Homo sapiens: one gene and its partners. The protein of the gene in region 1 interacts with the protein of each later gene in a pairwise test. Each region holds a gene or a part of one and is shown in the gene's direction. Other genes may lie near its edges.

Region 1 (3,749 bases):
GTGGTGACCCACTGTGGGGAGTGTAACCTGCAGACAGCTGCTTCCTGAGGTCACACCCATGTCAGGGCTGACTGCCAGTGACCGAAGGAGCTGGTGCTCTACAGGACCCTGTGGCAGTCCAATGCTGGACAGCTCCCGGGGGTGGCATTGTTTGAACCCAGAGCTCCCTGTTGGTTTGGTTGAAGCTCTCCAAAGTGCTGGGCTTCTCCCTCTGCCCAGCACCATTTCATCCACTTTCCTTTTCGAAGTGCTAATCCCTAATAAATAGCTTGTACCCCAAATTCAGCCTCAACCTTGGCTTCCAAAAACCGAACCTGCGACATATACTAATCAAAATACCGAATACCAAATAAAAACAAAACTGGCAACGACCTGGCCGGGTGCGGTGGCTCGCGCCTGTAATCCCTGCACTTTGGGAGGCTGAGGCGGGCAGATCATGTGAGGTCAGGAGGTCAAGACCAGCCTGGCCAATATGGTGAAACCCCTCTCTACTAAAAATACAAGAATTAGCTGGGTGTGGTGGCGGGACCTGTAATCTCGGCTACTCGGGAGGCTGAGGCAGGAGAATCGCTTAAACCCAGGAGATGCAGTAGCCGAGATTGTGTCACTGCACTCCAGCCTGGGCAACAGAGTGAGACTCTGTCTCAAAAAAATAAATAAATAAATAAAATAAAAAAGAAAAGAAAAAGAAACAACTTAAATTTCTGATTTATTTCTGTCAATAGAGAAATGCTAAATAAATAAATTACGGTGCCTATGATGAAATGAGGTGCAGGTAGATCAAGTACATTTTATAAACTGATGTGGAGAAATGTTCCTGATAGCTTGTTAACTCCAAAAAAAAAAAAAAAAAGCACATAGCAGAACACAACCCCATGTACATACAAAATATAACCTAAAATGTATTTCTTCTCCTTCTCCACCTTGTAAGATACTCAGTTTCCTTCCTACTGAAAGGGATGTGCGCGTGGATTCAGGGCAGCTCCCTTAGGGGTTGAGCAGGGATCATGGGATGAAATGGAATCCTGTTCATGAAGACAGCGCCTGTGCTGAGAGCCAGAGCAGGGTGCCAAACTGTCTCCTTACAAGCTGTGAGTGATCTTGGGCTCTGAGCCTTTAGTCCGTCATCCAAAATGCCTCCCCAGGTGCTTGGGGGGAATGGTTGTGGAAGGTAAATGTCTGGCATAATCCTATCACAGATTACTCAATAAAATTTGCTCTTTTCCTTGGCTTCTCCCGTCCTATTAGGGCCAAGAAGTTCTATTCTCTGGCACCCCCTTCCCTCCTTCCGAGTGGAGTGAGGCGAGCGAGGCCACAGCTGAGCAGCCGAATGACTGGGACCCAGAGGATGCTGATGCCAGGGACTCAGGCCAGGATTGAGCAAGAGAACAGACTGGGCTTCTCTAGGATCAGAGGTGCGATGATGGAGACCCAACAATTCTGGGAAATGTAGAGGCAGGAAGTGAAAGGAAGTGTAGGGTAGAGGAGCAACAGCAGATTGTACCTCTGATCCAGCCCTGCTCCCAGATGGTAAAAATGAGGAAGCTCCGAGAAGAGGAAAGGAAGTAGGCATGGCCTGGAGGAGGAGAACAGAGCTGGCCTCAAACCCAACTCTCCCCACCCACACATGGTCTCTGTGTGTTCTAATCCCTGTTCATTCTCATTTACTGTCTAAAGTTGAGGAGATGGGATGTCCCAGATGATAGGGCTCCTGGGATTTCAGACCCAAGACCAGCAGGACTCCAGTCACCTCTACCCCAGCTCTCCAGGACACAGCGCTCCCAACTCTGAGTGACGTCCCACCTCTGGTCCTTGCAGCACAACCAACGTGGGAATCACACCCTCCAGACCTCCCACAGGTAATGGTGCTGCCGGTGCCGGTGAGACCCAGGGGACAGGGGATGTCAGAGGAAGCAGGGAGAGGGGGACTTTGGGTCTTGGGTGGGACTAAATGAAAATAAATATAAGGCGGCAGTGTGGGGTTTAATTACTACGTGGAGATTTGAGACTCTGTTCCCTTCACTGGATTCTAGATTGGGTTACGGCAGCCACAATCCCCTGTCATAAACTAAGACTCCGGGAGCTGAGGCAGGAGAATCTTGTGAACCCAGGAGGCAGAGGTTGCAGTGAGCCGAGACGGCCTCGTTGCACAACAGCCTGGGCGACAAGAACGAAATTCCATCTCAAAAAATAAATAAATAAAAATAAAAATAAACTAAGACTCAGACTCAGCCTCATTGGTGGCCCATTTCCAGCCTTATCTTCATCTCAGCCCAGCCATGCCCTAATCCCAATACTAACCCCAGCTTCTACATTTTCTTTTTTTTTGAGACTGAGTCTCACTGTGTCGTCCAGGCTGGAGTGCAACGGCACAACCTCGGCTCACTGCCACCTCTGCCTCCTGGGTTCAAGTGATTCTCCTGCCTCAGCCTCCCAAGTAGCTGGGATTACAGGCGCACACCACCACACCCAGCTAATTTTTGTATTTTTAGTAGAGATGGGGTTTCACCATGTTGGCCAGGCCGGTCTCAAACTCCTGACCTAAAGTGATCTGTCTGCTTCGGTCTCCCAAAGTGCTGGGATTTATAGGCGTGAGCCACCGCACCTGTCGCCCCCCACCCAGCTCCTACTTCAACCCCAACCCCAGAATCAACTTGAATTTTAACACCAGCCCAAAGCCAAAATTGAACCTCGACTCTATTCTGTTTCCAAATTCACCACCAAAGTTAACCCCAATTCCATCCATGGCTCCAACGTGCATACTGACCCCAATCCTAGCATGAGATACAACCTCCAGTCCTGCCTGATTAACTGGCCCACTGGGTAGTCCTAGCAATGCGTTTAGCTCCAACGTTACCCTCCAGTTTCACTCCCAAACTCAACTCGACCCCAATTCTAACTCGACTGCAAACCCAGGCTCATTTCCGTCTTAACCCTGGGCTCATTCTCAACCTGAGCCTCATCTCCCAACTCAACGTCAGCCCTGCCCTTGGCTCCAACTTAGTCCCAACCTCCTATTCCCCAGCTCCACCCCAGACTGGGCGCCGGCCCTGCCTCCATTTCAGCTGTGACAACCTCAGAGCCGTGTTGGCCCAAGCATGACAAGGACGTATGAAAACTTCCAGTACTTGGAGAATAAGGTGAAAGTCCAGGGGTTTAAAAATGGTAAGAGGAAAGGGGAAACTCTCCTAAAATGCCCTCTTTATATGTTTAGAAGGATTTCTCCTATCATTTCTGTACCTCCACCACGCGCACTGGTGGGTCCTAACTCTGAGGAGGTCAGGCCCCAGCCTCTGACGGGCCTAGTGTGAAGAGGATGCAAGGTCTCTAGAAAGACTGGGACAGGGAGGATCACAGTGGACCCAGCTTCTGATGCTCTGTGGGGTGGGGATGAGAGCTGCGCATTGGTGGAGGGAAAGATAAGTAGTTGGGTTTGGAAGGAAACTCATTTGTGAACCTGATTGTCCAGCAGGTAGGTGAGCATAAGCCCATGAAGGGCTGGCTGCCCCCAGCTCTCCCTGTGTCCTCCTGCCCCTGCCCCCAGCTCTGACCATGGGACCCCTCATATCGCTATCACGTGGGTCCCCAGGGGTGTGAGGGGCCTGTGTGACTGAGGACTTGTGCTGGTCCCTGAAGTCAAAGGCCTGGGCATCCCCCACCCCAAAATCCTCCTTGTCCAACCCTCCCCTGGAGTCCCCTGTGCCCAGCCCTCCTCACTAGACAGCTCCCTGGGCCCTCTCCTTCTCCCG
Region 2 (3,749 bases), on another chromosome or scaffold:
TAATAGTCTTATTATTTTTCGTAAATATCATTCTTATTTTATAACTATTGTCTCCTCTGTTATAACTCTGAGGATGTGCTTATCAAAGCAATATTCCTCCTCTTCCTCCACTAACCACAGGTTGGTCCTTCTCTATCCACAGACCACACAGCTGCCAAGGGTAGCATGCGCTAGAGCTGCCGATCCTTAGAGTTTCCTGTGCAGCCAGCATTTCCAGCTGTTTGAGAGCCGCACCAGGACAGGACGATGGCTTTCTTCCCATCCTCCTCACTTAGGACAGGACGGGGTGGGCACAGGGACCCATCCAGCAAGTTATTATTTTTGTAGTTATTAAGATAGAAAGTATAGGCCGGGCATGGTGGCTCACACCTGTAATCCCGCCTCAGCCTCCCAAAGTGCTGGGATTACAGCGGTAAGTCATCATGCCCAGACGATTATTTTTTATTTGTATACGTTTATGGGGTACAAGTGTAACTTTATTGCATGGATAGATTCCAAAATGATGAAGTTAGGGCTTTCAGGTATCCACTAACCCAGTGACACACATTGTATCCATTAGATAATTCTTTTTTTTTGATGGAGTCTTGCTCTGTGACCCAGGCTGGAGTGCAGTGGCGTGATCTCAGCTCACTGCAACCTCCGCCTCCCGGGTTCAAGCGATTCTCCTGCCTCAGCCTCCTGAGTAGCTGGGACTATGGGCGTGTGCCACCACGCCCGGCTAATGTATCCATCATCATAACACACAACCATTTGAATGAATCTCACAGGCATTGTGCTGAGTGAAAAAGGTCACCCTCAGAAGGTGAGGCGATGGACGATTCCATTTATACAAGAGTCTCAAAGTGACAAAGTGATAGAGACGTAGAACAGATTAGCAGGTGCTAGGGTGGGAGAGCGATTATAAAGGGGCAGCATGAGGGAGTTCCTACGTGGTGGTGGGACAGTTCTGTGTCTTGATTGTGGCGGTGGTTCTATAAAGCCATACATACAGGCAATAAAATGTTACAGAACTATACCCATAGGCAAAGAAAAGGGAGGAGGAAAAGAAGGTGGAAGAGGAGGAAGAGCAGGAGAAAAGAAGGAAAAGGAGAAAAGGAAATAGAAATAGAAGGAAGAGGAAGAGAAAAAGAGAAACGAATTATGCACAAACTGGTGAGATCTGAGTGACCTCTGGAACCTGGTTAAACGTGTGATGCCAGTGCAAAGTCTCTGGTTTTGAAAATGTGCCATACGCCGGGCGTGGTGGCTCACGCCTGTAATCCCAGCAGTTTGGGAGGCCGAGGCAGGCGGATCGCCTGAGGTCAGAAGTTCGAGACCAGCCTGGGCAACATGGCAAAACCTCGTTTCTACTAAAAAGAACAAAAAAAATTAGCCAAGAGTGGTGGCGGACACCTGTCATCCCGGCAACTCGGGAGGCTGAGGCAGGAGAATCGCTTGAACCCGGGAGGCAGAGGTTGCAGTGAGCCAAGATTGTGCCACTGCACTCCAGCCTGGCTGACAGAGATTCTGTCTCAAAAAAAAAAAAAAAAAAAAAAAGTACTGTAATTATAAGAGATTACCATTGGCCGGGCACAGTGGCTTATGCCTGTAATCCCAGCACTTTGGGAGGCTGAGGTGGGCGGGTCACTAGAGACCAGGAGTTCAAGACCAGCCTGGCCCACATGGTGAAATCCCATCTCTACAAAAAATTAGCTGGGTGTGGTGGTGCATGCTTGTAATCCCAGCTACTTGGGAGTCTGAGGCAGGAGAATCCTTAAACCCATGAGGCAGAGGTTGCAGTGAGCCGAGATCGCGCCACTGCACTCCAGCCTGGGTGACAGAGCAAGACTCTGTCCCCCCCGCCCCCCAAAAAAAGGTTAACATTGTGGGGAGCTGGCTAGTGGGTACACGGAAGCTATAAAGCTATAGGTATTAATGTTTGTTTGTTTGCTTGTTTGAGACAGTTTCACCGTTGTTGTCCAGGCTGGAGTGCAGTGGCACAATCTTGGCTCACAGCAACCTCCGCCTCCTGGGTTCAAGCCATTCTCCTGTCTCAGCCTCCGGAGTAGCTGGGATTACAGGCATGCGCCACCATGCCTGGCTAATTTTGTATTTTTAGTAGAGACGGGGGTTTCTCCATTTTGGTCAGGCTGGTCTTGAACTCCCGACCTCAGGTGATCCGCCCGCCTCAGCCTCTCAAGGTGCTGGGATTACAGGCGTGAGCCACCGCGTCCGGCCGGTATTAGTGTTTTAAAATAAAAAATTACATTTACAGAAAACTCTTGGCAGAACTTCAGATAAGGTAGGACAGAGCTCGGGCGGGTGGGGCCACACACACCGGATTCATGGGGAAGAAGTTATCATCGACGGCTTCTTGTTTCCTGAGTCGGTTGTGAGAAGGAAACTGCAAGAGTGGGGCAGAGAACCAGAGTGTCAGAGCAAAACCTCCTCTATCTGCACATCCTGGGGACGAACCGGGCAGCCGGAGAGCTGCGGCCGGCCCAGTCCCGCTCCGCCTTTGAAGGGTAAAACCCAAGGCGGGGCCTTGGTTCTGGCAGAAGGGACGCTATGACCGCAGAATTCCTCTCCCTGCTTTGCCTCGGTGAGTCTCCAGGACTGGGACGAATGGGCTTGGGCTGGTGAGAAAAACTCATGTGGGAGTGGCAGTCCAGGTGGAAATGCGGTGTGTGGAAGTAATGACTTCCAGGTGTTGCACACCTGCGGTGGGTGGGTCTGGGCTGTGGGTTCTGTGAGTTCTGCCGCCCACATGCAAGCGAGGAGGAGGCCGCGCTGCAGAGACACGGGGACAGACTCCGCTGGGAAAGGCAGAGCTGCTGTGGGGTCTCCGAGTCTGCAGCCGCTAAATACCGCAGTACTGCCATCATCCTCCGTCGGAATAGAGGAGGGCTGGGCTTAGGGATCTACAGGGTGCAAGGCTGTGGGCAAAAAGACAATTTTCTTCTCTCTCTCTCTTATTTATTTATTTATGTATGTATGCATTTATTTATGAGACAGAGTCTCACTCTGTAGCCCAGGCTGGAGTGCAATGGCGTGATCTGGGCTCACTGCAACCTCCGTCTCCCAGGTTCAAGCGATTCTCCTGCCTCAGCCTCCCGAGTAGGTGGGACTACAGGTGCAGGCCACCACACCCGGCTGACTTTTGTATTTTAAGTAGAGACGGGGTTTCACCATGTTGGTCAGGCTGGTCTCGAGCCCCTGACCTCAGGTGATCCGCCCGCCTCAGCCTCCCAAAGTGCTGGGATTACAGGCGTGAGCCACCACACCTGGCCCCAAGAAGACAATTTTCTGACCAGCTCGATTCTTAGGCTGATTTTAACCATCCTCCAATTGAACCTGATGTATTCAGACAGAGCTCACACTGTGAAACGGATGACCTGGGTTATAATCTCGGCTTTACTACATAGAAACTCTAGGCTTGACCCAGCAGAGCTCCACCTCCCTAAGGCCCCAGTTCCTCCCTGGTGCACGGGGGGTGCGGTGGACATCGACGTGCTTCGTCTGCTTCAGTTCCTTCCTCCTTTTCTGGGTGCAGCCCTTCCTTGTGGGGTAATGCTCGTCTCCTACACACATTTGCACCTTAGATGAGCATTTTTTTTTTTTTTTGACAGAGTCTTGCTTTGTCTCCCAGGCTGGAGTGCAGTGGTGTGATCTCAGCTCACTGCAACCTCCACCTCCTGGGTTCAAGCGATTCTCCTGCCTCCGCCTCCCGAGAAGCTGGGATTATAGGCACACGCCACCACGCCTGGCTA
Region 3 (3,749 bases), on another chromosome or scaffold:
CTTTGGGAGGCCGAGATGGGCGGATCAGGAGGTCAGGAGTTCAAGACCAGCCTGACCAACATGGAGAAACCCTGTCTCTACTAAAAATACAAAAATTAGCCAGGCATGGTGTCATGCGCATGTAGTCCCAGCTACTCGGGAGGCTGAGGCAGGAGAATTACTTGAACTCAGGAGGCGGAGGTTGCGGTGGGCCAAGATCGCGCCATTATACTCCAGCCTGGGCAACAAGAGTGAGACTCCGTCTCAAAAAAGAAAAAAAAGGGATAGGATCTACTATTATCTCCATTTTACAAATGAGGACATTAAGGCCCAAGAAGTTAAGTGACTTGCTCAAGATCTGGTTAGTGGCAGAGCTGGGATATGAACCCAAACAGTCTCCAAAGTCCAGACTCTTTTTTTTTTTTTTTTTTGAGATGGAGTCTCACACTGTTACCCAGGCTGGAGTGCAGTGGCATGATCTCAGCTCACTGCAATCTCCGCCTCCCGGGTTCAAGCGATTCTCCTGCCTCAGCCTCCCAAGTAGCTGGGATTACAGGTGCTCGGCACCACGCCCAGCTAATTTTTTGTATTTTTAGTAGAGACGGCGTTTCACCATGTTGGCCAGGCTGGTCTCAAACTTCTGACTTTGTGATTCACCCGCCTCAGCCTCCCAAAGTGCTGGGATTACAGGCCTGAGCCACCGCGCCCAGCCAAGTCCACACTCTTAAAAACTACACTCAACTGCTATTTCTTGGTTTATTTTATTTTATTCTTTTTTTGAGATGGAGTTTCACTCTTGTCCCCTAGGCTAGAGTGCAGTGGTGCCATCTTGGCTCACTGCAACCTCCACCTCCAGAGTTCAAGCAATTCTGCCTCAGCCTCCCGAGTAGCTGGGATTACAGGTGCCCACCATCACGCCCATCTAATTTTTGTATTTTTAGTAGAGATGACGTTTCACCGTGTTGGCCAGGCTGGTCTCTAACTCCTGACCTCAGGTGATCCACCTGCCTTGGCCTCCCAAAGTACTGGGATTACAGGCATGAGCCACTGCGCCCAGCCTTTGATTCCTTTTAGAAAAAAGGAAAAATTTTAAAAATTAGCCATGTGTGACAGCACATGCCTTTCTGTGGTCCCAGCTACTCAGGAGGCTGAGATGGGAGGATTGCTTGAGCCTGGGAGGTCAAGGCTGCAATGAGCCATGACTGTGTCACTGCACTCCAGCCTGGGTGACAGAGCAAGACCTTGTCTCCAAAACTAAAATAAAAAGATGATATTAGTCCCCTACCCTAAACTTTAGCTTTCCTCACCCCTTCCTACAATTTCTGTCCTCTGTTTTCATGTTATCAAAGTAGACTATAATTATCTGCTGCTTTAAAACCGTAATTATCTTCCATGTTTTATCTGTGGATTGACTCTAAACATTGAAAATTAATATAAAATGTGTATGTTATTTAAGCCATGTATTTAATAAATATTGTTCCAACAGAGCCAAATAATGTTTAACAGTTACATTTGCTTTCTTATGTTACTTTTGTTTTTCTTGGAGTTTCTAGTTGCCTTTCTTTATTCTCTCATTATATTTGCCTTCATTTCCTTAGTTTTTTTTCTGTTCAAGCTTTTCATTGTCTTGTATGTCACCATTCTTTAAATAGAAGCAAAATTAGTCTCTCTGTGGTCCCCATTTGTGGGTTACCGCTTGACTTGTTCAGGATGAAACCCCTTCCTTTTCTGCCAGGCAGCCCTGCAGATGCTGCTGACTGCCTTGAGGATTTTAAGTGTATGGCATGCACTCCTCAACTGTCGTGGTGTCATTGTCCCCATATGGTAGACTTGGAAAGCTGGGAAGGAGAGAAGAGTCTAACCTTGTTTCAGGTTATCTGCCATTGTGCCATCACCATTGTTTTCAGCAGCATTTGCTAGTGATTGAGACCTAGCTGGCACAGGCTGGGGGCTCAGTGTGCTAAGTCTGTGGAGCCAGGAACTTGGGACAGGGTTGAGGTTGCTCATCCTCAGGACATGAGCTGGGGGAGAGGATGCCTTTACCATTCCATGATCTGCCTCCCGTGGGCAGAGTTCCAGGAGAAGAAAACCAGGCAGGTGCTGATTAATCTTTTTTTTTTTTTTTTTTTTTGAGACAGAGTCTTTTTGTATTGCCCAGGCAGTGCAGTGGTGCCATCTCAGCTCACTGCAACCTCTGCCTGTGAGGTTCAAGCAATTCTCATGCCTCAGCCTCCCCAGTAGCTGAGATTACAGGTGTGCACCACCATGCTGGGCTAATTTTTGTATTTTTAGTAGAGACGGAGTTTCGTCATGTTGGTCAGGCTGGTCTTGAATGCCTGGCCTCATGTGATCTGCCCAGCTCACCCTCCCAAACTGCTGGGATTACAGGCATGAGCCACTGTGCCCAGTCTAATCTTGATTTGCAAGCTGGTTGCTGAGTGTCCACTCTGTGTGCCTGCTTTTTTTTTTTTTTTTTTTTTTTTTGCAATAAGGTCTTACTCTGTCACCCAGGCTAAAGTGCAGTGGTACGGTCATAGCTCACTGCAGCCTTGACCTCCCAGGCTTAAGTGATCATCCTGTTTCTGCCTCCTGAGTAGCTGGAACTACAGATGTGTGCCACCATACCCAGTTAATTTTTAATTTTTAATTTTTAATTTTTTAGAGTTGTTTTTTGTTGTTGTTGTTGTTGTTGTTGTTTTCTTTTTGAGACAGTTTCACTCTTACTGCCCAGGCTGGAGTGCAATGGCGTGATCCTGGCTCACTGCAACCTCCGCCTCCCAGGTTTAAGTGATTGTCCTGCCTCAGCCTCCCAAGTAGCTGGGATTACAGGCGCACACCACCAAGCCTGGCTAATTTAGTATTTTTATATAGAGACAGGGTTTCACTGTGTTGGCCAGGCTGGTCTCGAACTCCTGACCTCAGGTGATCTGTACACCTCAGCCTCCCAAAATGCTGGGAGTACAGGCATGAGCCACTGGGCCCAGCCCCCCTCTTTTTTTTTTTTTCCTGTCCTACTAAGTTAGGCTGGACTAATGACAGGGATTCTCATTGACCAAGGTGCTTCCTGAGGTGGAGGAGGAGGTAGTCACTGAGCCTCTAGTGTATGCTGGGTACACATAACTTCCAGATACACACATCTAAGTGTTCATGCTTCCAAAATCCCTTTATTCCTCGTACCGAACATCCTACTTTTTGCCAAGTTTGGAGGTATCAGAGCAAGAAACTGAAGGCTGTTACCTCTTTCGCCACCCAAGTTCTCTGGGCCTGGAGGTTATCACTCTCTGCTTTTTGAGGCCTTACCCTGATGGCTACTGAGGAAGGAGCTGGGTGGGGCCTCTGTGTTGGTCACTCGTCTCAGACCACTGAGCAGTCCTCAGGGTTACTGGCTATCTGTCCAGTCTGAAGATCGAGCCGCCCGTCCCTTCTCTTTCTCTGGCTCCAGTAAGCCAGGCATCTCAGCTCCATGCAGAACCTTCTTCACTTCCACCTCCAGGCCTTTACCCTGCTTTCCTGCTTTTCTGCCTAGTTAGATTCATCCATCCGTGCTTTGAGGCTCCCTTCCCTCATGCAAGCTTTGTGTATTGCCCTAGGCCACGCTGATCCTTTTCTTTTTTTTTTTCAGTATTTATTGATCATTCTTGGGTGTTTCTCAGAGAGGGGGATGTGGCAGGGTCATAGGATAATAGTGGAGAGAAGGTCAGCAGATAAACACGTGAACAAAGGTCTCTGGTTTTCCTAGGCAGAGGACCCTGCAGCCTTCCTCAGTGTTT

Evidence for each region.
Region 2: the proteins of CLEC10A (region 1) and VSTM1 interact in binary tests that used the Homo sapiens proteins (3 or more experiments, as listed by UniProt).
Region 3: the proteins of CLEC10A (region 1) and CLN6 interact in binary tests that used the Homo sapiens proteins (3 or more experiments, as listed by UniProt).

Annotation. Positions count from the first base shown.
Region 1 is NC_000017.11:7,078,162-7,081,910, reverse strand, and holds the start of CLEC10A (C-type lectin domain family 10 member A), read left to right. Parts: upstream 1-1,659; 5' UTR 1,660-1,859; intron 1,860-3,025; 5' UTR 3,026-3,098; coding exon 3,099-3,165; intron 3,166-3,749. UniProt on the Homo sapiens protein: C-type lectin receptor involved in recognition of N-acetylgalactosamine (GalNAc)-terminated glycans by myeloid antigen presenting cells (APCs).
Region 2 is NC_000019.10:54,062,576-54,066,324, reverse strand, and holds the start of VSTM1 (V-set and transmembrane domain-containing protein 1 isoform 1 precursor), read left to right. Parts: upstream 1-2,427; 5' UTR 2,428-2,547; coding exon 2,548-2,581; intron 2,582-3,749.
Region 3 is NC_000015.10:68,222,980-68,226,728, reverse strand, and holds part of CLN6 (ceroid-lipofuscinosis neuronal protein 6), read left to right. Parts: intron 1-3,749.